Regions from separate parts of the Homo sapiens genome. Here all the other regions are linked to region 3. The links come from fine-mapping of genetic effects on gene expression. A gene starts in region 3. Each other region holds a variant in brackets. All regions are shown on one strand. Distances are from middle to middle. Region 1 has its middle 13 kb from the start of NT5DC4. Region 2 has its middle 24 kb from the start of SLC20A1-DT. Region 3 holds the start of SLC20A1 (solute carrier family 20 member 1).

Region 1 (6,026 bases), 63 kb before region 3:
ATGAGTTTGGAAAACCCCCTAGATTTTTGGACCTAGGGAGCAAGGATGAGAGATGTTGCATCGGCATCTATGGCAGCTAAAGATCGAGCACCAGGACCCTTGGAGAGGGACAGAAAGAGAGGCAAGAACGGAGCCCCGGGAACAACCAGGTAGGATGGAGACAGGAGAGGACCCAGCAGAGAAGACCAAGAGGAAGCAGGCAGAGGAGCGGAAGAGGAGGAAGAGAAAGGCTGGCCCAAGCCCCTGGAGCAGGCACTGTGCTGCAGAAAGGCAGAAGGAGAGAAGGCCCCAGTGCCCCCTACACTAGGCAATAGGTCAGAGGAGGCCTTGGCTGGCCGATGAGATGTCAGTGGTGAGATAGGGCAGGAGTCAGGAGGGAGAGGAGGGTGCAGACGTGGGAACAGCCTATGAAAGACAACCCTTGCAGGAGTCTTAGCCAAGAAAGAAATGACTTCAGGGCAAGTAGCCAGACTGATGGGCAAGAAACCCAGCAGGGCTGAAGGACCAGAGTCTCAATGAGCAGCAAAGAGGCCACAGGAAGGAAAGTGGGTTAAAAGACAATGGTGTGGGACGGTTGCGGTGGCTTATACCTATAACCCCAGCACTTTGGGAGGCTGAGGCAGGCGGATCACTTGAGGTCAGGAGTTTGAGACCAGCCTGGACAATATGGTGAAAACCTGTCTCTACTAAAATACAAAAATTAGACAGGCATGGTGGCAGGCACCTGTAGTCCCACCTATTCAGGAGGCTGAGGCAGAAGAATCGCTTGAAGCCAGGCGGTGGAGTTTGCAGTGAGCCGAGATCCTGCCACTGCACTCCAGCCTGGATGACAGAGTGAGACACCATCCCAAAACAAGCAAGCAAAAAAAGACAATGGTTTGTGTCCACCAAAAGACGTGTGCAAAATGCCACATCATCTTTATCCAACATCGTCGCAAACTGAAAACAACCCAAATGTTCAACAGTTCCAGAATGGGTCAATAAATGGTGACGTGTCGACCCAGTGGAATCAGCAATGAAGAAAAACCAAACATGCTACCCACAATAACATGCGTGAATCTTACAGACCCAGCAGTGGGCATAGGAATTCATGTACATCACTGTATGTACCTCCTACCTGAATTTAAAACCATGAAAGATGATAAAATGTAAGGTTTCAGATGTGGAGCAGCCTGGGAGATGACAAGGTCCAAGGTGTCACCAACAGTTCACATGGGTTATTCTAAAACAGTTACAGAAGACTATTTTTGAAAGTGGATGGGGCTGTACTATTTTTTCACAGACTCTGCCCTATGAGGCTGCCAGTCCCAGCTGCCCCTTCTCCAACTGTCCCCAATTCTGCTCCCTGACTCCATTGCAGCTTCCCCCGTGGACACTAGACCCTGGACTCTCACTCACTCACACTCAGACATGCACACCACACCGCACAGCACCCCACACCGCACACTGCACACCCTCACAAGGGCCAGACCTGGATAAAGATGTGAGTGAAACAGCACGTGGGGAAGCAGACCAGGAAGTCTCTACTGAAGGCCTCTCTATTGGGTCAAGCTGGTTGTGCCAAGCTCCTTTTGCCCTTGGGATGAGCTCCTTCCCAGGCGGCTTTTCCAGCTGTCACACCAGCTTGACTTCTGAGAACTCTCCCTCTCCCTCTGTCCACACACCAGTCACTCCAGAGCCTGAATGCATGTGACACAGGACATACAGGGAAGGCCATAGGAAACAATGAACAGTAGCTGCCTGGCACCGCAGCTATTGTTCATTATTGAATTAATGAATTATCATCATCCAAAATGGTTAAAATGTTCCCGTCTTCATTTTCTCTTCAATAAGTTATGTCTGAATTGATTTTTTTTTTTGAGTCAGAGTCTCGTTCTGTCACCCAGACTGGAGTGCAGTGGCACGATCTCGGCTCACCGCCACCTCTGCCTCCTGGGTTCAAGCGATTCTCCTGCCTCAGCCTCCCGAGTAGCTGAGATTACAGGTGCATACCACCACACCCAGATAATTTTTGTATTTTTAAGTAGAGACGGGGTTTCACCATGTTGGCCAGGCTGGTCTCGAACTCTGTACCTCAAGTGATCCGCCCGCCTTGACCTCCCAAAGTGCTGGGATTATAGGCGGGAGCCACTGCGCCCGGCCGTCTGAATTGATTTTTAAAGAAGATAGGTTGGAGAGACCTGAGAGTGGCAGCTCTGTAGGAGTGACAGTTCACAGAAGTCTCAAATTCACACTCAGCAGGCAGAAGCAGTGCCTGTCTGTGAGAAGCTGAGAGTTCCCTCGGAGGGCGGCTCCTGGGGGGTTCTGGGCAGCACAAGCTAAGCCCTGTGCGGAGATTCTAGGTCGGCAGGAGAGTGACCTAATTAAACACACAGGCTTATTCTTAGACGAGGAGCCCCAGTTAAGGCCCCTGGGTAAGCACAGCACAAAGGCACAGCCCTAGAGGTGACCGGAATAATTCTCATTTTTAAGTAGCAGCCACTTTTTTTTATTATAAAAGTAGTACACATTCATCGTAGAATGTTTAGAAAATATAGAAAGTACAGGAAAGGAAATGCTCTCTACTAGAAATAACCGCTATTTTTGCTTATTTCCTTCCTGGTCTTCTTTTTATACATATTTACTTATTTGACGACTGAGGGGAAATGTTTATTCACAAGTGTAAGTGAAAAAAATATATAAAATTATAAACGGCACAATCCTAAATTTGTTCTGCAAATTAGGACTGTTATACATATGCAGTTCTGTGTCCTGTTTGTTTCATTCAATATTAAAAACCAACATCTCCTTTATGTCATTAAATATTCAGCAACTTGATTTTTAATGGCTTCATAATGTCCATCACATAGAATAGTGTATACACTGTTGCCCTGTAATGGGGCATTTAGGTGGCTTCCAATTTTTCAAATAACTCTACCATGAACCTCCCTGTGTATTTTTAATTATTATCTTGAGCTGATTTCTAGAAGTGAAAATTATTTAGAACTCTTGTTTTGCATTGCCAAATAACTTCCTGAAAATCCCCAGCTATTGGCACTTCCACATCATATAGAAAGTA[C/T]AGAAAAGTCCCTAAGTGTGGGACATCTTGGTTCCTGTAAAAACAACCTGAGGTTCCTTTTTTTTTTTTTTTTTTGAGACAGAGTTTCGCTCTCATTGCCCAGGCTGGAGTGGAATGGTGCGACCTCAGCTCACTGTAACCCCCACCTCCTAGGTTCAAGTAATTCTCCTGCCTCAGCCTCCCAAGTAGCTGCGATTACAGGCATGCACTGCCACGCCTGGCTAATTTTGTATTTTTAGCAGAGGTGGGGCTTCACCATGTTGGTCAGGCTGGTATCAAACTCCTGGCCTCAGGTGATCCACCTGCCTTGGTCTCCCAAAGTGCTGTGATTACAGCTCAGCTTCTTTATCAACGGACAGCTGATCCAGATCAAACAGAGGACACTGCGAGCAAGGAACCAGATCCTCAGAGCCGTCTGGTGCTTTGTGACTGAGCACAGCCAACACTGTCTCCTAGCAGGAGTCACCTTTCACCAGGTTAGGCTGCTGTAACCAACAACTCCAGAATTTTAGGGGATTACAGCAAGCACGGTTTATTTCTCACACACATCATTCAAAGATGTGGGTCAACTGTGGCTTTATTCCATGTCTTCTTAGTCTGAGACCCAAGCTGAAGGAACAGCCCAGCTCCTATCTCCAACCTCATGGTCACGGACAAAGACACAAAGCAGAAGTCCACAATGGTCTTTAGAGCTTTGACTTGGACTTGGCGTGTACAACTCCCACCCTCTTCCAAGCCTAAAGCCAAGGAAGCAAGGGAATACACTCCTCCCATGGGAAGGTGCTCCAGGTCCCGCGGCCTGGGGTGATACAGACAGATCCTGTTACAGAGTGGACAGAAGAGAACTGGGAACAAGGATACAATCTGCCACAGCTATGAGCAGTTGGAAACGATGCTTAGTGTTCATCGTCACTAAATCTGACGTCAGGAATCTCTGGCACCCAGAATACCACCTCATACTGGAAAATCCCATGCCCTAGAAGCCTTCTCCAATGGCTGATGAGAAGGATCACCTAGGTTTGACTTTTGTGCCAATAAAAGGAAAAAAATAAAATATACGTGTGTTGTGTGTGTTTATGAACATATATTTATAAGTAGCTCCATGTAAAATAGTGAAGGTATATGCTGTTAAATTTTTAAAAGGCAAAAGTAAAATTATATGTATGACAGGCTACCATTTATTTATTGTTTGTTTGTTTGTTTGTTTTTGTGAGACAGAGTCTCACTCTGTCGCCCAGGCTGCAGTGCAGTGACGCAATCTCAGCTCACTGTAACCTCCACGTCCCAGGTTCAAGCGATTCTACTGCCTCAGCCTCTCGAGTAGCTGGAATTACAGGCACCCGCCACCATGCACAGCTAATTTTTGTATTTTTAGTAGAAACGGGGTTTCATCATGTTGGCCAAGCTGGTCTCGAATTCCTGATCTCAAATGATCCACCCACCTCAGTCTCCCAAAGTGCTGGGATTATAGGCGTGAGCAACAGCGTCCAGCCTATCATTTATTTTTTTTATTGGGGGAGAATACATATACATTTCTGTTTATATACACATAAAACATTTCCCAAAAGATCAATAAGAAGCTGGTGACAGTGGCTATTTTAGGAACAAGAACTAAGGGACTGAAAGTGGGGAGGAAGGCTTGCTTTTCACTGTATACTCTTCTTATAACTTGGATTTTTTTTCCTTTTGTTTAGATTATCTTTTCCAAGAAATTTGTTCTCATTAAAAATTTTAAAAATTGTCCTTTCTCACGCACATCACATATCTCTCTGTCTATGCTTCCTTCATTGCTCCCACATTGGGACATGCCCTGAATTCCCATTCCTACAGCCTGAGAAAGCAGAGTTTCCAGAAAGCACTAGAAAATCCAAGAAGAACAAATACCAAGATCTACAAAGCAAAAAAAGAGCTCATGCTCCAACAGGCCAACCCGCTTCCTGTGGTTGTACAGACCACACTCCCTCACCACTGGCCTGATAAGCCCCTTTGAGTAAGGTGAGATCTGCAGATAGGGCTGAACTCTTGCGTGAGTCAGGAGTCTTTGCAGCAAAGGGGGTGGAGAGAGGGGAAGGAAAGGAAGAGACAGAAAGAGAGCAGCAACACGTGCAAAGGAAGCCAGGACTGGATGAGATGGAGGCCACTGGTGCCCCCAAGATCAGGGACTCTACAGATGGGGCTGCCTACCATACCATAGGCTGCCGAGACCTCTCCTCTGTCTTCTTCACATGCCCACTCCTGCTCCAAACCTCCCATACACCACATGCTTGCTGTGAAGAGATCCCTTTGCAGAAATCTCAAGGGCTGACATTTTTACCATCTGGAGGCGTGGAACCAGGACAGCACCCATAGGAACAGGAGCTAAAGTCAGAGATAACATGAGGGCATGGTGTCTAGGGAAATGGTGGAAATTCTGAGGAGTACTTTGGATTTCTAGAAGGCATTGAATTTGGAGTGCAAGCCAAGCTTATGTCTAAATAAGCCTAGAGCCCACAGTGGTCACTGGGTTTCACAAGCAAAGGTCATGAATATAGAATGTTCTTGCATGAGTGGTGGCGAGGTTGGTCTGCATCACTGGTCATCTGCTGTGAATTTTTTCAGGGGAAGCTCACATCCTCGGAGGCCTTCGCCTCACCCTAGAAAGATACAAAATGCCCTGGAGAAATGCTGTATTCACAGCACATTTGCACAGGACACTGTGTCAGTCACTGATCTGGAACACTTTGCTTGCTTACCTCCTTGAGCTATTGGTGCAATAACCATATGCAGATGGGCTAGCACAGGCTCCTGGGCTCCCTGAGTCAGTTCCACAGAACCCGGGATCAACAAGGAGTTACGAGAGTTCCATGGAACAAATAGAAGACATGATTAAATACATTTAGGGAAGATGGGAATAAACAAGATTTATGACTGCAGGACTTCTCAGAGTTTTGATGCTTTGATATGCATAATGAGCCCCCAAGAAGGGAAT
Region 2 (6,026 bases), 25 kb after region 3:
CGGGTTCAAGCAATTCTCCTCGCACCTCAGCCTTTTGAGTAGCTGGGATTACAGGCGCCCGCCATCATGCCCGGCTAATTTTTGCATTTTTAGTAGAGATAGAGTTTCACCATATTGGCCAGGCTGGTCTCGAACTCCTGACCTCATGATCTGCCCACCTAGGCCTCCCCAAGTGCTGGGATTACAGGTGTGAACCACTGCACCCAGCCCCAAATCCTGTTATCTAAAAGATGACAAAATTTGAGCCTAGGCAACATATCAAGACCCCATCTCTACAAATTTTTTTTAAGAAATAGCCAGGTGGCTGGGCGTGGTGCCTCACCCTGTAATCCCAGTACTTTGGGAGGCAAAGGTGGGTGGATTACGAGGTCAGGAGTTCAAGACCAGCCTGACCAATATACTAAAAATACAAAAATTAGCTGAGCATGGTGGCACACGCCTGTAGTCCCAGCTGCTTGGGAGGTTGAGGCAGGAGAATCACTTGGACCTGGGAAGTGGAGGTTGCAGTGAGCCGAGATCAAGCCACCGCACTCCAGCCTGGGTGACAGAGCGAGACTCCGTCTCAAAAAAAAAAAAAAAAAAAAGAAAAGAAAAGAGAAAAGAAATAGTAAGGCATGGTGGTGCATGCTTATAGTCCCAGCTACTCAGAAAGCTGAGGCAGGAAAATCACTTGAGCCCAGAGGTTCAAGCCTTCAGTGAGCTATGACTGCCACTGCATTCCATCCTGGGCAGCAAAGAGAGTCTCTGTCTCTACTGAAAAAAAAAAAAAAAAAAAAGAAAAGAAAAGAAAAAAAAAAGAAAAGAAAAAATTTGGAAATAAATTAAAAGTGCATAAAAGTTATTAAAATACTGCTAAATAGTAATAGATAATTTATCTTCCTCTTTACACTCTGCAGAAGAAACGGTGAATGGTACTTATTAGGCAATGTGTAAAGCACTTGACGTGTGTAATCTTATCACATCTGCACAAATGACACACGATCCAAAGAACATTTTTGGCTCCAACTTACAGATGAGTAAGCAAGCTCAGGGAGGATCTTTCCTGATAGATATTTAGCAGCAGAGAGGGCCAGGAATTGGGTTCTGTAATCTCAGTCTGTGCTCATTTTACTGGAAGCCACATGTGTAGATACTGGTATTATCTGAGCCTAATCCCTGGAATCTCTATGGTCAATTGGAGAGAGGCTTAGGGAGGTCAGGGGATAGACAGGTCTTGGCCAGAGTCCACCTCACAGTGGGTCAGGTAGGATCCCAGGCACACCGTGTGGCTATTTTGCCAGCCTTGCTGTCCTTATCCGAGGAATGCGGTCTGTCATGGTGGGAATGCCCAGTTAGAATCCTTGAAAGGGCCACCTACAACCAAGATAATAACCTAAAAACAATTCTGTGGAGGAAGACGCGGTCGTAGGTGCTGAGGATTTCTCGTTCAGACGCTCCTGCTCCTGACTTACCGCTGTTCACTCTCGCCGAGGAACAAGTCGGTCAGGAAGCCGCGCAGCAGCCTTGGCTTTTAAGGATACCGGAAAACACCCGTGGAGCCGGAGGTGGCCATTCACCAAATTCGAATCACCCTAACAAGCCGCAATGTAAAATCCCTGGAAAAGGTGTGTGATGACTTAATCAGAGGCGCAAAGGAAAAGAATCTCAAAGTGAAAGGACCAGTTCGAATGCCTGCCAAGACTTTGAGAATCACTACAAGAAAAACTACTTGTGGTGAAGATTCTAAGACCTGGGATCATTTCCAGATGAGAATTCACAAGCGACTCATTGACTTGCACAGTCCTTCTGAGATTGTTAAGCAGATTACTTCCATCAGTATTGAGCCAGGAGTTGAGGTGGAAGTTACCATTGCAGATGCTTAAGTCAACTATTTTAATAAATTGATTACCAGTTGTTAAAAAAAAAACAATTCTGTGCCTGATGACATTGCAGAAATTAGTTCCATAAAGATTTGAAAGATGCAGGGCTACTGATTTCCATAACACCATTATTACCTCACCTATTTGGTCAGTGCAAGAGGCAAATGTTGGTGGAGAATGAAGGTGGATTAACACAAACATATTCATGGGTTTGCTTATCCCGCCCACAGCACTTCCTCCAGCACCATATATTCATAGATTTACAAATGCTTATTCAATTGCAATGATGTCTTACATACAAATTATTTGTCCATGGGCATGTTTTCATGATAAAAGATGTTAAGCTATGGGCCATGGCTATGGAGTTCCTGCTTACTACATGCCACATCTCCTAGCAGCAGGCAGCTTCACAGAAGGTAGTGGAAAGACCTGCCGCAGCCTTAATTATGGTGGCAGTGTGGGCTCCACATCTACGACTTTACAATGTGTAGTGAACCTTTGGATACCTCTCAGAATTTCCCATCAGGACCTAAGCAGTGATTCCATGAGCTGCTAGAGTATGGACTGCTAATGATTCACAGGTGAAACCTCTTCCAAGAATGTCCTTGGCCCACAGGAACAGTCTTACCCAAGGTCATGCACCCTTCCCAGTGTAGGGACACACAGCCTGTTCTAAGGATATGTAATACTTCTGTCCATAATGGCAAGTGATGTTGCCTTTGGAAAAATGCTACAGTGAGAACAGCATTAGTGGGATGAGAGCACATCCAGGACCCACTGGGCTCCCTGAGCCCAGCCATGTGGTGTGGGTGAAGCAGTACAGGCGGGGAAAAGACCACTGCACTGAGGAAAAGAGCTGGCAGGGTCCAGCGTGCTTAAGAACAGTGTCCAGGCCAGGCACAGTGGCTCATGCCTGTAATCGCAGCACTTTGGGAGGCCGAGGCGGGCAGATCACGAGGTCAAGAGATCAAGATCATCCTGGGCCACATGGTGAAACCTCATCTCTATTAAAAATACAAAAATTAGCTGGGCATTGTGGCGTGTGCCTGTAGTCCCAGCTACTCGGGAGGCTGAGGCAGGAGAATCGCTTGAACCCGGGAGGTGGAGGTTGCAGTGAGCCAAGATCAAGTCCCTGCACTCCAGCCTGGCATCAGAGTGAGACTCCATCTTAAAAAAAAAAAAAAAAAA[G/AAG]CAGTGTCCGGCAGACTGTACAGACTGCACTCTGCTCAGGCCAGTTAGCTCTAATGATCCTTTTCAGCTACAAGTGCCAGTGACTGGCTACTCTGTAGAATGGGGTCATCAGGCATCAAAAGAGTCACATAATGGCATTACAAGATGGCCAGACATCCCTTGATCCCAGAGGAACATTTTGTGCCAGCACCTCCAGCTTCATGGAGGCATTGATACACCAAGTCCCTGAGGATGCCTGAAGCTGGTTCACAGATGGAGCCCGCTAAGTTACAGGCTGGCGGATTGTTCTTGGCCCTTGCAGCTGTGCAGCCACAGGGGAAAACAAAAGCTGTTTAAAATTTTGCACACAAAAAAAAGGTACTACCCAGTGGACAGAGTTGGGGACAGTGGTGGTTTTCCTGAAAAACCCCTCCAAAATGCTCCTTGCTGCTTTTTCATTGATTTAGAGACGGTAGCCAATGGGCTGGCAGTGCGGGCCTGTGCCTGGAAGCAAGACTAAATGATCAAGTCTCAATCCCTATGGCAGTGAACATTATGGTATCAGACTTTTTTTTTTTTTTCTGAGATGGAGTCTCCCTCTGTTGCCCAGGCTGGAGTGCAGTGGTACGATCTCAGCTCACTGCAGCCTCCATTTCCCAGGTTCAAGTGATTCTGTTGCCTCAGCCTCCCAAGTAACTGGGATTATAGGCTTGCACCACCGTGCCTGGCTAATTTTTTTTTTTTTTTGTATTTTTAGTAGAGACGGGGTTTTGCCATGTTGACCAGGCTGGTCTTGAACTCCTGACCTCAGGTGATCCACCATGCCTGGCTATTTTTTTTTTTTTTTATTAGAGATGAGATTTTTGCCATGTTGACCAGGCTGGTTTCGAACTCCTGACCTCAAGTGATCCACCGCCTCAGCCTCCCATGCTGGGATTACAGGCATGAGCCACCGCACCCAGCCTCAGATTTTATTAATACTACACCACTGCCCTCTGTTTTATGGATGTGGATGTCCATAGAAATAGCATGAGTGGAATTCAAAACCCAATCAGACTTGTGCCTTCCAGGTAAGGACAACTGAATACATCATCACAGAGGCCACGACATTCTGTCTACAGTGCAGGACTGGGACCCAAAGCAAAGATGAATGACTCCAGCACAGGAAGCCACCGAAGTCTGGTAAATGAGCCTGTCAGTCAAGGGGCAAAGAAAACTCCAGGGCACATATAAACTCAGGACACCAGATTCTGGCCAGTCCTGGCAAATAGGCTACATAACCTCCTAAATGCTCCACTTGGGGATGCAATTAAGCATTTCCTACAGTAGGCACCTTTCTGGGTATGGCATGGCAATGTAGGTCCTTACCACAGATAGGAGGTAGATGTAACATAAATTTAGGGACTCGCAGATGACCTGTGTTACATACTGAGATTCCCTGAATGTATCTCATCAAATGATGCGCATTTATAGTCAAGAGTACCCAACACTGGCCAACCACCTTGGACATTGCCAGGACATCTCAGGACCCTCATCACCCACAGGCAATAGATGCCATAAAAGGATGGAATGAGGCTGGGCGCCATGGCCCACACCTGTATCCCCAATACTTTGGGAGGCTGAGGCAGGTGGATCGCTTGAGACCAGCCTGGGCAACATGGTGAAACTCTGTCTCTACATAAAATACAAAAAATTATCCGGGTGTGGTGGTACACCCCTGTGGTCTCAGCTACTGGGAAGGCTGAGGTGAGAGGATCACCTGGGCCCAGGAGGTTGAGGCTGCAGGGTAAGCCGTGATTGAACCACTGCATTCCAGCCTGGGCGACAGAATGGGACCCGGTGTCAAAAAAAAAAAAAAAAAAAAAAAAGAGAGAGAGAGAGATGGATGCTTAAAGGAGAAGCTAAAAAGGGTACATAGAGAACCAAAGCTCAATTCTCAGTAGAGTACACACTTAAAACAGACAATATGGATTCTAAATGTGCCAATACCCCAAAAGGGAACTTCCTTTTTAAATAGAATCTGTGTGAGTTTGAGGAGTCGGGGAGGAGGCCCAGACTGTCTGTAAGAGACCCAAACCAACACAATATACTCTCCTTCTTCATTCCTCCTTTCCCTCCCACGCTCACCCCTGGGGAAACCAAACTATGCTGCTTTTTTCTTTTTTTTTTTTTTTTGAGACGGAATCTCACTCTGTCGCCAGGCTGGAGTGCAGTGGCGCAATCTCAGCTCACTGCAACCTCCGCCTCCTGGGTTCAAGCAATTCTCCTGCCTCAGCCTCCTGAGTAGCTGAGACTACAGGCGCCCACCACCACGCCCGGCTAATTTTTGTATTTTTAGTAGAGACGGGGTTTCACCATATCGGCCGGGCTGGTCACAAACTCCTGACCTCAGGTGATCCACCCACCTTGGCCTCCCAAAGTGCTGGTATTACAGGTGTGAGCCACAGCGCCCAGCATTTTTTTTTTTTTTTTTTTGACACGGGGTCTTGCTCTGTCGCCCAGGCTGGAGTGCAGTGGCACAATCTTGGCTCACTGCAACCTCCGCCTTCCTGGTTCTAGAGATTCTCCTGCCTCAGCCTCCGAGTAGCTGGGACTGTAGCTGGGACTATAGGCGTTTGCCACCATACCCGGCTAAATTTTAGGTATTTTTGGTAGAGACGGGGTTTCTCCATGTTAGCCAGGATGGTCTTGATCTCCTGACCTCGTGATCCACCTGCCTCGGCCTCCCAAAATGCTGGGAATACAGGTATAAGCCACCATGCCCAGCCTAACCTGATGCTGCTTTTACTGTCCAGTTATGCTTCCTGGATCTGGGCAATTATAGATACTGATGATATTGATCATGAGTATGAAGTGACGACTCCCAAAGTGGTCCCGGCATGGCACACTATGTGAGGGAGTGGAAGATGTTCTAGATGGCACAAGTTGCAAACACACACACGCACACACACACAAAGCTGCACTGCTTAGGAATAAACTCAGCCATATGGTGTGTATTAG
Region 3 (6,026 bases):
GCCAGCAAGACTTCTTGATAAAAGAAATGCAAACTGGGTCACTTAAAAGGGATTTTCAAATGGACAGGAAATTAAATGGCTGCCTGAAGTTTTTTTGGGGGGCGGGCCAAAAACTACCTTTAACTGGTTCTTTTCAACTATTCTGAGAAATTGGAGTCAAGTCACTATGGGAGGCAGAGTCCTCATCTAGAAGCTTATAAACTGGTTATGATAATCAGCACGGCAGAGACCCATTTAACTGGCAGCTTAGTTAAAAAAGCCACAGGGGACACTGTCTTGAACTCCAAGTTTACGTATTATATTAGCCTGAATATAACAGTGGTTTAAACAAATAATGTGTATACAGCTACACAAAACCACGCAAAATAAATTTCCTTATTTTTTTGCTCCCAGTTTCTCCTACTTCTTGGCACATCATAGTATTCAATTTTTCCTTCCTGACTGCCCTCTTGAGTATTAAAAACTCGCTTTCAGAGAACTCCACAACATACAAGAAATGCACAGAACAAAGAGCTTTTTAAAATTTTCCAAGGCCGCATACCTATACACCAATCACATCTGCAAAAGTACCACTGGGTTTGAAATCGATTGGGTGTGCTCCATGAAAGGTCTTCATACGGGGGAGAAAGGTTACCTTATGGAGGATGAATGCACGAACCAGGAAGAATAAAATTCCAGACATAATTCCAGAAAGCAGTGGGGACACGAACCAAGACATCACTGGAATAGAACACATTAAGAAAAAATATCAAATAATGAAAATCAGAAACCAAAAACCACTTTAAATGTTTAAGAGTTCAAAATTCTTGGGTCTGTCCCTCGACGTTAGAACACATCCTCCCATACCTAATGCCATGGTAACATATGACGAAAACGAAAATTAAGAAGCCGTTTGGAATTAAACATACCAATTTTTATCAGTTCAGACCACTTGACACCCTCCTGCCCCTTTGCCACGAGGGAGAAACCAATAGTTGCACCAACAATACAATGGGTTCCAGAAATAGGGAGCTTCAAAAACGAAGCCACGAGTTGCCACACAGCAGAACCTGAAACATAGTAAAGTTTTATTAAGTAAATATCAAAATTCCATTATGTAAGTGGCACATTCAGAAAGGTTAATCGGAAAGGTTATGCACAAAAATGGAACCACCCATGATACAAATTTGCTCACCCACCACGAAGAGGACAAAACATAAAAAGAACTTACCAAACATAGCACTGACTGAGCCGGCCATCAGCAGCCCTTGAGTCGAGTTGTACATCTCCACGTCAATCAAGCCCTTCCGGATGGTTTCGCTCACTTTGGCCCCCAGTAAGACAGAGCCCACTGTTTCAAAGATGCTAGCTAGGATGCAGGCTTGCTTCAGGGTCACTACACCTGAGCCCACAGCTGTACCAAAAGAATTTGCTACATCATTGGCTCCCACGGAGAATGCCAAGACAAATGCAATAATGAAGCCCAGGATGAGCATCCATAGGTAGTCCACCAAAGGACCAGAAGCGGCGGTAGCAGCTGTAGTACTGGTAATCAGCGTTGCCATTCTCTGGAGTAGTGGTTGTTTAGTAAGAGAACTACTGAGCGCCTTTCAAGATGTGTAAACAGAATATGAGGTATCAAAAATGCTATAATAAATAATATATATTATATAAAATTAAATACTGTAAACTACGGCACAGAAACCGAGCTGGGGAGTTACTGCTATACGCTGCGTATGGGCATCTGTTGTCTGGGGTTTCTTTGGCTCAGGAGGGCTAAAAGCACGGAGCAGAATTCCATGGCGGAGAAGAGAAAGGACGCAAGTTCATCCTGCGGGGGAGGGGGGAAATAACAATAGCTGCGTGCCCCTGGGGGGCCAGTGGGGCACCCCGCTCTACCCACGCGCCCGGGGTCCCGCAATAGCCTCTGCCGGCTACTCCAGACCCCCATCCCCAGTAGGACGCGCGAGAAGGAGAGGCACGTGGCTCCGGGTCCTCCGCGGCCCGCGCGCGCCCAGCCCAGCCCCTGCGCTGCCAGCCCGCGCGCGCCCTCCGCGCGAAAATCGGAAAAGGGCCGTTCCCGCGCGCGCCGCCCGGGGACCGCCAAAAAGGCCCGCGGGCGGGCAGACGGGCGGAGTGGAGGCGGCCAGCGGCGAAGAGAGAAGCCAGCCGCGCCGCCCACGGCGTCCGCCTCCAGCGCCACGGCGTCCGCGCCCGGCCCCGGGGAGAAGAAAGAGCCTTTACGAGGCGGCGCCACTACTCACCAGGGAAAAGGGAGGGCGGAGCGGGAGACGAGGAGATCGAGGCGACAGCGGCTGGAGCCACGGGCACACGGCCCGGGTCGGCGGCACCGGGGACAGCTCAGCGGGACTCACGACCTTCCCAGGAAGCAGCCGCGGGGGTTTCAGCGGCCGAGAAGAAGAACCACGCAGAGAGCGCCGGCAGCCATCACTCCAGCGGAGCACCCCGCCGGCCCCTACTTATAGCCCGCGCAGCGACCCGCGTGACCCCGCCGCGCCTCGCGCCGGCCCCGAAGCCCCGCCCCCGGCATGACGCAGCCCTCCTCGGCCCGGCGTGCCCAGCCGGGTGAGCCCGACGGTGGCGCTCATTGGCCCGGCCCGCTTCGGCGGCCACGCCCCCAGCGGGGAGCCGGTCCACGTGGGGCGGGACAGCCCCCTCCCTGCGGCCTCGCCCTGGAGTCTCGGCACCGTCTGGCCCCGCCGGCTGATTACAGCCAGAGATCGAGGGGGACCTCGCTGTCCCCCTAGAGGCCGTCATGCGGGGTTACAGAGGCTGCGACCAAAGTCATTCCTAGCTCCTCTCTCGGGGCTCCGGAAAGCCGTCCGCGCCTCCAGCCGCACTTTCAGCGCACGCAGGACCTGCCGCGCCCGGTGGCCACACCCGTCCCTCTGCCGGGTGACGCTGCGGGAGATCTTGCGCCCTGGGGCTCCGGATCCAGTTCTGGCACGTTGTTGCACCTGTGACTTGTCCTTGGCCTGGCACTGTCCCTCGCCTGGGGGAAGCGGGGGGGTGGGGGGGGGATGCTCACGTGGTCGCTTTGCTCCCGCAGTCATGCACTTGGGTGAAAACAGACTGAAGAGTCACGGGAACCAGCTTGTCTCCCCAGTTATGGCGCAGAGCTGCAAGGATGGCTGTGGGTCATTAATTTCTCCGTGGCTGACCTGTGTTTGTAACGCCGCAGCTGTTGCGAGGGGGAAGGACACTGCTTCGGATTCAAATTCTGACTCCTTGCTGCAGTGTGTCACCTTGAGCCAGTCCCAGATCTCTGCGTTCTCACAATTGTAAAATGTTAACAGAGGCTGCCTACCTTGTGGCTGGAATTAAATGAATTAACGTGTGTGAATGTGACTAGAATTCAGTACATGTTCAGGAAAAGCTGATTTCCGCTTTGCTGTTACCGTGAATATTACTGTTTTAGGGTGTAGAAAAGGGTGGAAGGGGATGTTATTGCATCCTGGAAGCTTATCCTTTTGAGGTAAAGATTGATTTCTGGTCCCCTGCGTGGTATATAGTGTAGTTTTGACATTATTTAGATGTGTTATGCACATTTGGGTGTTGATTATATGGCTTACGATCAAGACTAACCAGTCATGCCGTGGGAGATTAAGGTCGTGGTCTCTTGTCAGGATTGTAGTGAGATTTAAAAATTCCAGCCAGAAATACCAGGCTTAGAATGCTCTGAAGCCCTCCCCACATTTTTGCCATCTCTAGCAGGAGGGCACTGCATAGCAGAAACAAAGACGTTGTAAATTGTTGCTGCCTGAGTCATTTATAGAGGCTTAAACAACCTGAATGTCCTCTGACCTACCTGTAACATTTGATGGAGTTGTATGAGTAACTTACAAAGCTGTAGGTCCCAAGGTCGGTCTGAAAAAGAAAGTTCATATCCGGGAGCACTGACCCCGTAGTGTAATCCTGGCACCTTAAAACGTACTGCTCCCTCCACCTTCACTTCAAGGTTATGAAAACATTGAGTAAAAGGGATGATCTGTTCAAAGTCCTTAGTGTTCTGCCAATTTAAAACAGTAATTTTCAAAGCAGTTATTTGCAAGGAAATTGCCTAGAACTTCTCCCAGTGTGCGGTTGTTTTGTGTGTTTGTGTGTGTGTTTTGTTTGTTTGTTTTCAGTCTGTCCACAGGCGTACTTTTATAGGTCTGTGATAGTAGGTAGCTCTTCAAGTTGGCAAACACCTGCTGGACAACCCCTGAGAGATTCATCTGAGTGAGAGAGCACTCTCCAGCCCCATCGGAGTGGGTTTGCAGGGAAATCATAAGGTAGAGATTCAAAGGAATTCCCTTGCGTTGCAAATGAAAACTGTATCTTCAGACTCTGATATAGTGTAATCCTTCCTTTTTAGGAAGAAATCCTTATCTTTCCAACACTGAGATGCTTCTGCCGAAGAGTAGAATGGGAGGTGAGGAATTGGGGTGGGCCCTCACTGCTTTGCCTCCGGATCAGTAGGGTACAGCCCTTGGAGACCAGGATCTTCCTTGGCTGGGACACCTTCGTCCTCCCCTAAGGGAGGAGAGGTAGGGATCTGCCTGTGGAAAGAAGTTACAGTGCCTTTTAAATAGAAATAGGAGGTAGGAGGACCGTCAGTTGTCAGTTCGTGCACAAATGGCATTGTTTCTGGCCTTATCTCTGAATGCTGAGGAAACAGGTCAGAGATCCTAAAGAGAATCTAATCTCTTAGAATCCAGGCATTGGCACAAACCCCCTCTAGCATCTTAGGGAGGTGGTTTGGTGTAGTGGTTAAACACATAGACTGTAAGACCAAACCACCTGCTCTGTCACTCACTAGTCCTGTGACCATAGGCAAATAAATTATCTGCCTCAGTTTCCTGATCTGTAAAGGGGTGAGATTGAGACTTCTAACTCACAGTGCTGTTGTGAGGACCAAATGAATGAATATATGTAAAGCCCTTGTAAAAGGGCTCTTATTCTCTTTGTTCAATAACTAGCTGAAGGCCTGTCATACATAGCCCATGTTTAAAATGAAGTATGTGTCAGATGTCAGGACCACCCTCTTCTCCCTGCCCTCTGATCCAAGCCCTTTCAAATTTCTCCCACGGCTCATAGTGAGGGGACACGCAAAACGGGCTGCTGCCGGAGGAAGAGGAACAGTGTTGTGGCTCATGCCATATGAATGGGCTCACTGGCCTGGCCCAGACCCTGACTGCCCACAGGATCTTTGGTGAGTCACTGTCACTGAGCCTGTGAGCCTAGGGTCCCTCTCCAACCTCACCCTCAGAGAGGACAGAACAAGATGACCTGTGGCATGCTGCAGAACACCATGTTGGGGACTGTGGGTTTAGAGTCCTCTTGGGGACATGTCCATCGTTCACTAATTCGGTGGAGTTGAGCTGCTGAGAGCTAGGAAAGCTACTCTCCCCCCGGATCCCAACCTAGCCCTGTGGAAGACCAGACAAAAGAAGGAAGCAATGACATTTCTGCACTTTTTAGTTCAGAGAGGCACAGTCAAGGAAATGCATTTGAGGTCACTGTTCGATGTACTTGAAGTACTCATCCTGGAAATAGTCTACTTGGAGTAGAGGGAGCTCAAGTGGGCATGGGAACGTTGTGGAACCAGACCAGGAACAAAGGCGGCTTCAGAGGCCGTCTGTGAGGACTTGCATGGGAGCAGGGGCGAGAACATCCAGGGAAGAGAAGGTAGGAGCCTTGGAGTAAAGGAGAACCAGCTCCTCTCCACCCACCAATGCCCTCCCCATCCCCAGATGAATGAGGTAATAATAATACCTGTAGCTGGACATGGTGGCTCAAGCTTGTAATCCCAGCATTTTGGGAGGCCAAGGCGGGTGGATCACCTGAGGACGGGAGTTCGAGACCAGCCTATCAACATGGAGAAACCCTGTCTCTACTAAAAATACAAAAATTAGTTGGGCACGGTGGTGCATGGCTGTAATCCCAGCTACTTGGGAGGCTGAGGCAGGAGAATCACTTGAACCCGGGAGGCGGAGATTGCGGTGAGCCAAGATCGTGCCATTGCACTCCAGCCTGGGCAACAA

The links. PIP is the estimated chance that this variant, and not a neighbour inherited with it, causes the effect.
Region 1: its variant is fine-mapped to the expression of SLC20A1 in whole blood (TOPMed, PIP above 0.99).
Region 2: its variant is fine-mapped to the expression of SLC20A1 in whole blood (INTERVAL, PIP above 0.99).

What each region holds. Positions count from the first base shown.
Region 1 is chr2:112,705,436-112,711,461 of GRCh38, reverse strand. No RefSeq gene overlaps it. Among named protein-coding and RNA genes, the nearest start is that of NT5DC4, 13 kb to the left of the region's middle. RefSeq lists an enhancer at 2,910-3,089. The variant C/T (reference allele first, on the strand shown) is at 3,059.
Region 2 is chr2:112,617,645-112,623,670 of GRCh38, reverse strand. It overlaps the pseudogene RPS20P11. Among named protein-coding and RNA genes, the nearest start is that of SLC20A1-DT, 24 kb to the left of the region's middle. The variant G/AAG (reference allele first, on the strand shown) is at 3,048.
Region 3 is chr2:112,642,347-112,648,372 of GRCh38, reverse strand. SLC20A1 (solute carrier family 20 member 1) reads right to left here and starts at 2,434. Exons shown (of 11, transcript NM_005415.5): 1 at 2,244-2,434; 2 at 1,211-1,810; 3 at 909-1,049; 4 at 635-720. The coding sequence starts at 1,544. It overlaps SLC20A1-DT (SLC20A1 divergent transcript), which reads left to right and starts at 4,193. Exons shown (of 5, transcript NR_033871.1): 1 at 4,193-4,274; 2 at 4,358-4,414; 3 at 5,080-5,194. RefSeq lists silencers at 1,187-1,481, 1,943-2,772 and an enhancer at 5,412-6,026.